Linked DNA regions of Homo sapiens: regions 2, 3 and 4 are each reported to be linked to region 1. The links are microRNA targets in miRTarBase. Many come from high-throughput screens and were not tested one by one. Region 1 holds a microRNA gene; each other region holds the end of a gene's coding sequence.
Evidence for each region. Region 1 holds the annotated microRNA hsa-miR-6780a-5p (UUGGGAGGGAAGACAGCUGGAGA, at 1,379-1,401, opposite strand). A microRNA usually pairs through its seed, bases 2 to 8, with sites in the 3' UTR of a target mRNA and lowers its output. Matches are read on the target gene's strand: a 7mer-m8 pairs with bases 2 to 8, a 7mer-A1 pairs with bases 2 to 7 and ends in A, and an 8mer does both.

Region 2: the mRNA of PAPOLA is a reported target of hsa-miR-6780a-5p. The part of its 3' UTR that is shown has no 7-base or 8-base seed match.
Region 3: miRTarBase lists CAMLG as a target of hsa-miR-6780a-5p. Seed matches in the 3' UTR shown: 8mer at 2,021-2,028 and 8mer at 1,885-1,892.
Region 4: the mRNA of UQCRQ is a reported target of hsa-miR-6780a-5p. Seed matches in the 3' UTR shown: 8mer at 964-971.

Annotation. Positions count from the first base shown.
Region 1 is chr17:42,706,746-42,709,893 of GRCh38, forward strand. It overlaps MIR6780A (microRNA 6780a), which reads right to left and starts at 1,406; the gene lies at 1,339-1,406. It overlaps EZH1 (enhancer of zeste 1 polycomb repressive complex 2 subunit), which reads right to left. Exons shown (of 21, transcript NM_001991.5): 13 at 3,101-3,148; 14 at 2,131-2,171; 15 at 1,213-1,338.
Region 2 is chr14:96,564,817-96,567,964 of GRCh38, reverse strand. PAPOLA (poly(A) polymerase alpha) reads right to left here. Exons shown (of 22, transcript NM_032632.5): 22 at 849-3,010. The coding sequence ends at 2,915. Among named protein-coding and RNA genes, the nearest start is that of PAPOLA, 64 kb to the right of the region's middle.
Region 3 is chr5:134,750,680-134,753,827 of GRCh38, reverse strand. CAMLG (calcium modulating ligand) reads right to left here. Exons shown (of 4, transcript NM_001745.4): 4 at 1,671-3,069. The coding sequence ends at 2,878. Among named protein-coding and RNA genes, the nearest start is that of DDX46, 6.5 kb to the left of the region's middle.
Region 4 is chr5:132,867,271-132,870,418 of GRCh38, forward strand. It overlaps UQCRQ (ubiquinol-cytochrome c reductase complex III subunit VII), which reads left to right. Exons shown (of 3, transcript NM_014402.5): 3 at 218-1,577. The coding sequence ends at 312. Among named protein-coding and RNA genes, the nearest start is that of UQCRQ, 2.2 kb to the left of the region's middle.

The DNA of each region.
Region 1 (3,148 bases):
AGATTCCCCAACAATCCTCTCCCTCCCACTGAGGTGGAGAGTACCCCAGAGAATATGAAATCAGTGTGTTTCACTGGTAAATTGTCACCATCAAAACAAGTATCATTTTGAGAACAGAATGCATCCGTTCTATGCCATCCTTCTCCACCCACTGCCCAACCCAGCGCAACCACTTCTCTGCTGCGGCTAAGATCACTATCTGCTATGGGTTAGGAGGTATTTCCTCCAGCAAAACCGCCTGGGCACCAAGTTCTGCAAGCTGTGGGGACTGCCATCAAACTGCTCAGCTTTGAGTTGGGAAGGGCATGGTGGGATAAGAAGTAAAAGATAAGTACCCGGATGTCTCTGCTGACATCCAGGCCCCTGTCTTCTACCTGATATTAAAACTCCAGCTATGAAATGAAAATAGACATACACAGAATCACAAACAAAAAATATCTGAATAAAAAATTTTTTAAAACAGTATTCAGAAAAGGGAAACTGGGGCTGTAACTTAAAAAAAAAAAAAAGAGTCCCACATTTCTTTTCTTTTTGAGACAGAGTCTTGCTCTGTTGCCCAGGCTGGAGTGCAGTGGCACAATCTTGGCTCACTGGCAGCCTCTGCCCTCTGGGTTCAAGCAGTTCTTGTGCCTCAGCCTCCCAAGTAGCTGGGACTACAAGCATGTACCACCATGTCTGGCTAATTTTTGTATTCTTAGTAGAGACGGGGTTCACCATGTTGGCCAGGCTGGTCTTGAGTCCTGACCTTAAGTGATCTGCCCGACTTGGCCTTCCAAGTGCTGGGATTATAGGCGTGAGCCACCACACCTGGCCTAATTTTTTTATTTTTAGTAGAGATGAGGTTTCGCCAAGTTGGCCACGCTGGTCTTGAACTCCTGACCTCAAGTGATCCGCCTACCCAAAGTGCTGGGATTACAGGCGTGAGTGACTGCGCCTGCTGCCCCCCACATTTCTTAATTCTCCCCTAGAAGACAAAGTTGGGAAAGTATCTGATTTCTGTGTAATTGCTGCTTTTAGAATCATGAACCTAAACGTTTTCCAGAAACGACTCTCCCAGATCTCATGCACTTATTTCATTTGTAGAATCCCTAAAACACAGCAAAGGGGATATCAGAAGGCCATAAGCAGTAAAGGGCACAGGAATGGGGCAAGCCTAGGGCACACTGGAGCCAACTGTTTTGGTAGACTATACAGAAAACGTAGCACACTTACAGTCTGGGTTGCACTGGCAGAACTTCTCACAGAAATTCTGAGTCATGATGCAGGGGCAGGTGCTGTCACAGGGGCGGTCTGGGTGGTCGCAGGGTTGGTAGTTGTACACTTGTGTGGAAGAGTTATCTAGGAAAGAAAACAGAGGAGGATGCTGCTGTGACCATACTCTCCAGCTGTCTTCCCTCCCAAGTGTCCAGCTGCCCTGATTCAGAGGAGGCTGGTCCTAACAATCTCCTTGGACACACATTTAGCACCTGAAGTGAGAAGACAGGGATGACCGTTGTTCATAAGCTGCAGTGGGGTGATCTGCTTTGTGGGGAGGGTGTGGAGATGGTCTGGGACAACAGGGAAGCTATTCTAAACATTAAATGAGGTCTGGAACCTAGCAAATGGCACACTAGAAAAGTCACATACTGGCCAGGCACAGTGGCTCACGCCTGTAATCCCAGCACTTTGCGAGGCCGAGGCAGGTGGATCATTTGAGGTCAGGAGTTCGAGACCAGCCTGGCCAACATGGTGAAACCCCGTCTCTACTAAAAATACAAAAATTAGCCAGGCATGGTGGTACATGCCTGTAATCCCAGCTACTTGGGAAGCTGAGGCAGGAGAATTGCTTGAACCCGGGAGGCGGAGGTTGCAGTGAGCCAAGATTGTGCCACTGCACTCCAGCCTGGGTGACAGAGCGAGGCTCCATCTCAAAAAAAAGAAAAATCACAGACCACAAGGCCCTTAATGTTACCTCCTAAGAGGTCTTCTCAGTTGCAGTGAGAGGCTCAGCTGTTCTCAGTTGCTGCAGAGAATTCTGCAATCTGCGGAAGTGGCACAGGGTCAACAAGTGCAGCTGGAGGTGGGGTAGGGTGATGACCACAGAGTGAGGCCTCCAGCTGAACTGCTGAAGAATGCCCTGGTAGAACTTACCTTTCTTCAGCTGAATCTTCCTGCAGTGTGCAGCCCACAATCTGAAAAAGACAGGAAGGACAGGTCTCAGTCACGGCCCTAGGGAGCTCTGCAAATGCAGGTAAATGACAACGTGACTTGCTCTGAGGGACTGTGTTTGATGACTGGGGAGTATCTTCCCAAACCCCTCAACAGGACGACTTTGGTACACAGAAGCTAGAGTCCATCCTAAATCCAGCTGGCCTGTGCTACAAGAGTTAAACTTAAACACAACCCCTCCCAAACAAGCAAATAACATAAAAGAACACAACACAGAAATAAAAGAAAGCCCAAGCCTATTGGTCTATTATAAAGCTATTGTTTCTCTCCAAATCTCTCCCTTTGTCTTTGTGGAGGTGGAGATATGGGGGAGTTTCAAGATGGGGAGGTGGGAAGGCCTTTCAGGAATCTTCTCTGAAAGAACTGAAAGGGAGGAGCCACAGGGATTTCCTTCTGTATCTAGAAGTGGTGTCAGCTCCTTCCTCTGATAGGTGATAGTCACTAGGGAACAGGGCCAGGGTGCAGAATTTTTTTAAAAACTTCCAACCTAAGTAAAGGCTATCATGTAACTCAGAAAAACAACACAAACCAAACAAATAAATAAACTCTGATCAGAGTTGAGAAATGGGTAAGGTGGTAACAAAACCAACAAGGAGAAATGGCTTCAGGGTGGAGCCATGAGGCCAGCTCATGTCCTATTGGCCAGAAGCTTAAATAGAAAAACAGACAGTTATGGTCCACAGCACTGGGGGACAAGAAGAGGGCTGATCTAAGGCACAGACCCTCAGGGAGCACTCAGGAGGCTGGCTCTCAGTCATGTGATGCCAAGCTGATGGGCTCACACAGCCTGTGCGGTTGCTAAAGAGGGAGGCAGATGGGAACTCCAAGGGGAGGTCAGAGCACAGGGAACAGCCTGGCTGTAAAACAAAACACTTTGTCCAACCCTTCTTGCCTGTGCTTTCTTTTCTTCTTCTGTGAGGGGTTCATGAGCTCATCTGTT
Region 2 (3,148 bases), not on the chromosome of region 1:
ATACAAACTGCATCTAGATGACTATCAAAGTAGAGGAAGTACAGCCAGTTCAATTCTTTTAGTGTTAACAAGGGAGATAAGGGTAATTCCTACAATATTTTCCCTTTTACTGAACAGTCTCAGAAGTTAAATTTTGCTTTTACTAAAAAGTTATCCCACAATGCAGCCACATTCCCATTTTCATATATAGGGAAGGTTACATTAGAATTTTAGAAATGATATATGAACAACTGCATGTCCCTCAGAATAATGGCTTTGACACAAAGAGTCCATCCCTCCACCCAAAACACAAGATAACCATACCCAAGAGCTGACCATCACAAAATACACAGAGCAGCTCGCTCCTGCACCATGAGTTAAGTATCAATGCTGAGCATCTGGGGGGTTAAGAAAAGCAATATCTGATTTGCATTTAGTAAAATAAGAAACATAGAATCCTGTTGGTTGTGGTCTGTAATTCTAAATTCACTGAAAAACAACAGTGCCACCTGCTGACATTAAAGTGCTAAATGCTTTGAAAAGGACAGTACACTGTCCACAGGCATAGAATAAATATACAGATAACGTATGGTGTCTACAGACACAGAACACTTTAGAGGACGGAAGAGCTAAAATTGAATTAATAGTAACTATATTAATGTTTTCCTCCCTAAAGATCAATTATATGAAAAACAAACACCTAATTATTATCTGAGCTATAAATACAAGGCTGCTGCCAATGGCTGAAGTTAACCAGAAACAAATCTTTTCTAATGTAACCAAATTCTTTTGCAAATCCTCACTTAGAATCATACTATAAACTTATGATTACTGGAAAAAAGTAGTAGTCAAAAGAAATCAGGCAACTGTGAGATTGTGCTGTTTTTTTTTTATTGTGTTTTCAATGGAGAAATACATCATCTGTTTACAAAATAGCTCTTGAAAAATACAAGGAGTACAGATACTATAAAACAAAGCAAACTCCAGTCATGAGACACTACATACATCATGCGAAAGCAACAGTCTGATCTCCAGGTTATGAAAACTATAATTAAAAAGTCACTACACAGAAAAGGTCCAAGTTTCCAGCTTGGCAAAACTTGGGTGCAGTTACATGAAACGTTTAATAAACTGAATTGTTTTCCCCAATGTGTAAACAAAATGACAAGACTAAATCTGTGCCTGGTAATTTCAATCTAACTCTGAAGCTACACAAAACACACAGACACCTTGTACATTTCACCTGTTAGTATGACCATCTTTTTTCTTCGGTGGTGGAAGGAAGGGCAAGGTGACTGTGTAAAGCAAAGATGTGGGAAGTAGAAATATTGTTTACTAGACATTATAAAGTCATGGTGAAAAGAAAGCTTCGATTAATGCATAGCCTAAGGGGGAAAAGACTACACTCCAACTTCAGAAAATTAATTTAGAAGGATAGGGGAAGAGATTAAGTAATTGCAGTTTAACATGAAAAATGCACATGTGATAGAATGGAGCACAATGGAGGATTCATAAAACATGCTCATCAGAAAAATCTGTTAAGTCGACTTTGTCCAGATTCAGAAAGAGTAAGTTTATCAACATCTGGCATCCCTCATACTTTGTGAAGATAGATCTTCTACTGCTTAATTATGAGAAATTATTTTATTCAAAGAAAGGAGCTCTTAATCTTTTGATAAAACAAAATAAAGGAGTAGAGAGCTGACTAGATGTCAAGTGCTTGCTAGAAATGATTTTTAAAATGCTTCTACACGTAAAATGTACTGACAAATTTTGGTAAACCATTTAAAAATAAGAATTAGTTTTAAAATCTTGGAGAAAATGCCTTTTTGCCCACATTTAAAACTGAAAATCAATTTTACTATAGATAGGAGTTCTGTGGAGTGTACAAAATTCCTTTTAGAGATCAAATGGCCATCCCAGATAGATATCATGTTTCACAGGCATTACTTTTAGTCACCCTCAAGTTTCAGCCATGGGACCAAAATTTAGTGTTCTGTGCCATGTGGTCACAGGGTCATTGGTTTCACATCATGGCTTAAGAAAATACTGGCATTTTGTTTCTTACGAAGTAAGTCCTACCTTGTGCATACAAGCAAAAAGAAAAAGGAAGAAAACAGGGGAGGGAAAGGCGCAAGAAGCTTTTTTTGTTTGTTTGTTTTGAAGACAACAGATTGAAGGCAAAAGAACACAGAGCTTTCACAAGCTCAAAGAAAAATATTTGCTGGCTGATCGCTGATTTGTATGCACTATAAAACAATTCCATAAATAAAACCAATATATCATTTCTTAATCATGACCCTATCAAAACCAAGTTATTTCCTAACTATTCTTTCAATGTCAAATGTACCCTAGAGTTGACGTTTCATTTTTAAGGGTTACAGCTACCTCATAGGAACTGAACTAGATGTACTCTTACCCTTTCTCTGAAGTATAACAGTACACCACTGCACAACAGTATCCAATTTGAAGACTAATGGTAAAGAAAATTCTTCAGGAAAAACTGAAAATCCATCAAGCTGAAAATCTAAAATTAGTTCTACTTTCTAATGAAAAATACATAAAAGTGCATCATCAGAATAAGTAATTCTTATGCCAGTTTGTATTGCAAATTTTCCAAACAATGCATCAAACATAAACCCAATCCAGATGTCAATTATGAATACAAATATAGCTTGAGGTTGTTTTTTTTAAAGGCAGTAATTTTTGAAATAGTTAATGCAACTGTTGCTAACACAATAATAATAGTACTCCTGGCTTCACATACTAACCTGGACTTCCGATCAAGTGCTGATTAGCCCAGTAAGGGAGGTCACCAAAAAACCCAAATCCATTTCAGTCATGTCTAGTCTTGTACCCTCCATTCTCCTTTTTTAGCATTTGAAGACAACAGGTTGAGTTGGCAGATATTGTTTATGGACCCCTGAGGTTGTTTTTACCGATTCAATCTCAGTTTTATTGAATTCTTGATAACAGGAATAGGATTTGCAGGGAGAGCAGGGATATCAGAAAGGTCTGTACTGGATGTTTTCTGAGAATGAAAGCAAAGAACACAACATTGTTCAAAGCACCATAATTTAACAATGAGATGTATTTTCCATTGCTTTACTTCCTAAGAAACCTTCTAAGAAGAAAAGTATTACAAATTTAAAAACTCTATAATGTTGTC
Region 3 (3,148 bases), not on the chromosome of region 1:
AGACCTTGTCTCAAAAAAAAGAAACTTTCAGGTCGGCTGCAGTGGCTCACACTTTTTTTTTTTTTTGAGACAGAGACTTGCTCTGTCGCCCAGGCTGGAGTGCAGTGGCACGATCTTGGCTCACTGCAAGCTCCGCCTCCCAGGTTCATGCCATTCTCCTGCCTCAGCCTCCCGAGTAGCTGGGACTACAGGTGCCTGCCACCATGCCTGGCTAATTTTTTGTATTTTTAGTAGAGACGGGGTTTCACCGTGTTAGCCAGGATGGTCTCGATCTCCTGACCTCATGATCTGCCCGCCTCGGCTTCCCAAAGTGCTGGAATTACAGGCGTGAGCCACCACGCCCGGCCTCACACTTTTAATCTCAGCAAATTGGGAGGCTGAGACAGGCAGATCACTTGAGGTCAGGAGTTTGAGACCTGCCTGGCCAACATGGTGAAACCGCCATCTCTACTAAAAATACAAAAATTAGCCAGGCATGGTGGCAATGCCTGTAATCCCAGCTACTCACTACTCAGGAGGCTGAGGCGTGAGCACTGCTTGAACCTGAGAGGCAGAGGTTGTACATCATGCCACTGCACTCCAGCCTGGGCAACAGAGTGAAACTGTCAAACAAAACACAACAAAACAGGCCGGGCGCAGTGGCTTACACCTGTAATCCCAGCACTTTGGGAGGCCGAGGCAGGTGGATCACCTGAGCTTTGGAGTTCCAGACCAGCCTGACCAACATGGAGAAACCCCGTCTCTACTAAAAATACAAAATTAGCTGGGCGTGGTAGTGCATGCCTATAAACTCAGCTACTCGGGAGGCTGAGGCAGGAGAATTGCTTGAACCCCAGAGGCAGAGGCTACAGTGAGCCGAGATTGTGCCATTGCACTCCAGCCTGGGCAACAAGAACGAAACTCTGTCTCAGAAAAAAAAAAAACAACACAAACAAACAAAAAAAACTTTCATTTCTACTTGATATTATTCAACAAATCAAGCAAATGATCAGGGAGATGCCTATCAGTTAAAGACAAAAAATGGCACCAATAGATACAGATATCTTATAACTGTCTTCAAAATATAAATTTGATAATGATCTACAATTACTAAAATTTTGCATGTGTCAGCTGGCTAAATGATTTTTTTTTTTTAAGAAAGAAAAGTAGGCCAGGCACAATGGCTCATACCTGTAATCCTAGCATTTTGGGAGGCCAAGGCAGGAGGACTGCTTGAGCCCAGTTTGAGACCAGCCTGGGTAACATGGTAAGATCCTGTCTCTACAAAAAATCAAAAAATTAGCCAGGCATTAATGGTCCCAGTTACTTGGGAGGCTGAGACAGGAGGATTGCTTGAGCCCAGGAGGTCAATCAAGGCTCCAGTGAGCCATGATTGTGCTACCACTACACTCCAGCCTGGACAACAGTGGTAAACACTGTTTGGAAAAAAAAAAAAGCACCAAAAGAGTAAACATGTGCAATGTGCAATTGAAGACCACTAGTATCTTCTCAGCGATTAAGGAAGTGACAACTTTAAGGATGATTTACAACCCTTTAGATACTAGATTCATTATGGAATCAGGAAAAATGTGTGCTTATAATCTTTCACCCAAATCAGAAGAATAGACTTAAATTATTCTTCATTACCCTGGTTCAAAATGAAATGACAGAAATCAAGACTTAAAGAGTAATTTTTTAAAAAGTGTATGTGTTTTTAATGTCACAAGGATTAACCAAATTAGACTATACAAAAATCTGTAAGGAAATGTAACACCAAGTGACATTAACACTTTAGTCTTATATTCTTTTAAGAAGACAACCCAACAAAATATGGCAGTTACTGAGTTAGTTAAAAGGATATTTATAAGGCCAGGTGCAGTGGCTCACGCCTGTAATCCCAGCACTTTGGGAGGCCGAGGTGGGCAGATCACCTGAGGTCAGAAGTTCGAGACCAGCCTGACCAACATGGAGAAACCCTGTCTTTACTAAAGAATATAAAAATTAGCTGGGCGTGGTGGTGCATGCCTGTAATCCCAGCTACTTGGGAGGCTGAGGCAGGAGAATCCCTTGAACCAGGAAGGTGGAGGTTGCGGTGAGCCGAGATGGCGCCATTGCACTCTAGCCTGGGCAACAAGAGCGAAACTCTGTCTCAAAAAAATAAAAACAATGTTTATAATAACTCATCTAGACCATATTTGGGGGGAAAAAGGACATTTATGCTATTGGGTTGCATGCCTCAATTCTTCACATCCCATTTTGTTTTTGCTTGCTTAAAACATACTTCTAAAAAGTGAAACTCAAATGTAAAAAGTTCCAATTCTGAGTTTGGTATACAGCAATAAAAATTTTATAAATACCTTCCAATTTCACATGTATGAATCTTTTCTTTGATTAAATACTTGTGCTGGAGTAAAAATTAAGATACTAACTCAACAAGAAAAGTTACAATGTGCAGAGTTAACATTAGACAATTCAGTTTCTTTCATTTTATTTTTCAGATGACTTCATTTCTCAGGACAGAATGACACAAACACAAGAAGCAGTCTCTAGGGCTGGCTGAGACCACATTTATCTGTTCTCCTAAAAGCACTAGCTCAGCTCCCAAAAGAAGAATTACAAATCTGAGAAGTTAGAGGAAAGGTACAGAATAGGAATTCTGATTAACAAGAAAAATCAATTAATGACATTGGTACTCTATTCTTCATATCAGTAATAATACAAACTCAGCCCTTTTAAATCAGAGAATCTGCCATTCTATATCTAATAAAGTAGCTTTACAACCCCTAAAGTAAAAGAATTACATGAAGGTGTAAACCAATTTGCCTCCTTTAGAGACACTGCAATATAGAAGAGGATTTTTTTTTTTTTGTAAGCTTCTCCTTCTCAGTTCTACAGGCTTCATGGTACTTCAGAGCCCCAATAATCAAGCAGTTCATGACAAAAGATAAAAGTGAAAAAGTAGACACAGAGATCTGTGAAGACTTCGCCCATTTTGCTATAGGTATCCATTGATCGATTTATCACTTCGGCAGGAATTCCCGACAATAGAAGTGCAGCTGTTAGTACTGTTGTCTTTATCTTCTTTTCACTCTGTGTAGAGAAAGACTCAAATTAATCTTCAAAGTTTCAGCAGGCTACATTAAGCTCTATACAAACATGATCAGTACTG
Region 4 (3,148 bases), not on the chromosome of region 1:
CAGCATGTTCCTCTGAGGTCACCTTTATTTAGTTCTTACCAGTGGTGAAATGCTTTGTGTTAAACGTGCAGCAGATAGTGATGATAGTTGCATGGCCTTGGATATGCTAAGAACTACTGAAGTGTATGCTTTAAAGAAGACAAGAGGACTGAGACCTTTTTTTTTCTTCTATATGTCTTATATGTGTGCTCTCTGTTTACTCTCTTAATTTTTAAAGAGTTTGTAGTGTTTTATCTTATCTACACATGGGGGACTGAAGAGTTCGAGAGATCCAAGAGGAAGAATCCAGCTGCCTATGAAAATGACAAATGAGCAACGCATCCGGATGACGGTTCCCTGTCTCTGAAAGACCTTTCTCTGGAAGAGGAGTCTGCATTGTAGTGTCTCAAAGACACAATAAACTTCCTATGGTCTGCACTGTTGTGATATTACATTTTTGTGAGTAGAATCCTGTGTGACCACTAATATTCAAGTTCATGAAGCGCCCCTCCTCAGCATGAGTCTTGAAGTTTTGCCTGGTCTCGGGTTTTGGTGAAAGAGCAGGGCTCCCCCTTTGTTCCATTATCTACAAGAAAGTAGCTGCAGGTACTCCTGCATCTAACCATTTGTGGGTGACATGGGCTATGGCGAGTGCTGGTTCTTGGCCCTCTGCTCCCATAGCAACAATAAAGTCTACTAACTATATTGTAATTAGTATGTGTCAGGGACGCTTTTATTTTTTATTTTTTGAGATGGAGTCTTGCTCTCTCACCCAGGCTGGAGTGCAGTGGTGTGATCTCGGCTCACTGCCATCTGTGCCTCCTGGGTTCAAACGATTCTCCTGTCTCAGCCTCCGAGTAGCTGGGATTACAGGTGCAGGACACCACACCTGGCTAATTTTTTGTATTTTTAGTAGAGACAGGTTTCACCATGTTGGCCAGGCTGGTCTGGAACTCCTGACCTCAGATGATCTGTGCGCCTCAGCCTCCCAAAGTGCTGGGATTACAGGCGTAAGCCATGGTGCTCTGGGCCTCAAATACTCTTCTTAGCTACACAAATGAACTGTTAAACCTCACAAGCACCTTTAACGTATCCTCATTTGGCAGATGAGGAAATGGGCACAGAGAGATTAAGTAATTTGCCAGAAATTATACAGCAGTGAATGGTGGAGTCTTGCACTAAAGTGATGCTCTTAAAACTATGCTCTATTGCAGGGGTGTCCAATCTTTTAGCTTCCCTGGGCCACACATAAAATACGCTAACATTACAATAGCTGATAAGCTTTAAAAAATGGCAAAAAAAACCCTCAGCGTTTTAGAAAGTTTACAAATTTTTGTTGGGTCGGATTCAAAGCCATCCTGGGCTGCTTGCTGCCCAGGACTGCGGTTGGACAAGCTTGCTCTACTGCCTTTCCTCCTAAGGCAGGCCTTAGCCTGAGGGGATATCAGCTATAAAACGGATGAGGTGATCTCTTAGCCTCCACAGCAGTTTTCTGTTTCTGTGCCAGGAGGCCAACAATGTTTTCAACCATATGTGGTTCATAAAGCCTCAAAGATTTACTCTGGCCCTTTATGAATAAAGTTTACCCCTGATCTAAAGCCTTTAAATTATCTTTTTGGTATTAAAGATACCATTTTCCCTTCGCCCACCGAGAGATGGTGGGGGTAGGTGTGGTTGGCAGTTTTATGCCTCTAGTTCCTTAGAGAGGCTTCTCTCTAAGCTTCGGGACATGGATCTCACCTGTGGTAGCAGGTATGTGGAATATGATGAGTTGTCATAGCTCAGTCAGTACAGTATATGCTATGGGATCTGAGATCCGTTTTTAGAAACTCTTCTAAGGACTCTTCCTGCTAGCAGCAACTTTGATTCTGGGTCAGACTGTGTTTTTTTTTTTTTTTTTTTGAGATGGGAGTCTTGCTCTGTCACCAGGCTGGAGTTTAGTGGCGCAATCTCAGCTTACTGCAACCTCCGCTTCCCGGGCTCAAGTGATTCTCCTGCCTCAGCCTCCCAAATAGCTGGGACTACAGGCGCATACCAACACACCCAGCTAATTTTTGTATTTTTATTTTTTTTTTTAGTAGAGACGGAGTTTCACCATGTTGGCCAGGATGGTCTTGATCTCTTGACCTCGTGATCCACCTGCCTCGACCTCCCAAAGTGCTGGGATTACAGGTGTGAGCCACCGTGCCTGGCCAGACTGTATCTTTATTATCCTAATTACTGCTATTGCCTTTTAAGAATCAAAAGTTAAGATACTTCAAAACATGGCCGGATACAGTGGCTCACACCTGTAATCCCAGCACTTTGGGAGGCTGAAGTGGATGGATCACTTGAGGTCAGGAGTTTGAGACCAGCCTGGCCAACATGGTGAAACCCTGTCTCTACTAAAAATATAAAAATTAGCTGAGTGTGGTGGCACACGCCTATAATCCCAGCTACTCAGGAGGCTGAGGCAGAAACGCTTGAACCTGGGAGGTGGAGGTTGCAGTGAGCCAAGATTGTGCCACTGCACTCCAGCCTGGGTGACAGAGCGAGACTTCAAAACAAAACCTAAAAGATAAACTACATTGTGAGGCAGGATACGGGGAAAAGGCTGAGTCTTACAGTCTTGGGCTCGTCCTCTTAGCCCGTCACTTCCTCATTATGTGATATAGGCAAGAAACCTACTTTCATGAGCCTTAAGCTTCTCACCCATAAAATAGAAATATTATAAAGTTCTTGGGTTGTGGTGATGGTGAAATGAGTGACAAGTGTCTGGCAAGATGGTACGGGCTTAACACAGGGCAACTAACTGAGGAACTCTTCTACCTCACCCCCAAAAGACAGTCCAATTTTCCCATTTGCCTCTTTGTCCAGATTTATTCCCAGGTCTTGCAACATATTTGGGTCATAGACTTGAGAATGATGAAAACTGTGGACCCATCCTTACCTTGCATAGCTTCAAAGAGTTCACAGCCCAGAGGAGGACCACTGCTTTGAGAGGCCGTTAATGTCTTTCTCCCTCTGGTGTTTGCCCCAACCCGCCGAAGTAGACGGCCACCCTCTCCCATCTTGCTCACCTTGTTCTACACTTAGACTATTTCTCCCTGGTTCTTTGACTCCTTTGGAGAGACCAGCTCAAAAGATCCAAATCCCTTTTCTCAGCCCAAACCAGGCACCAAGCCTATTC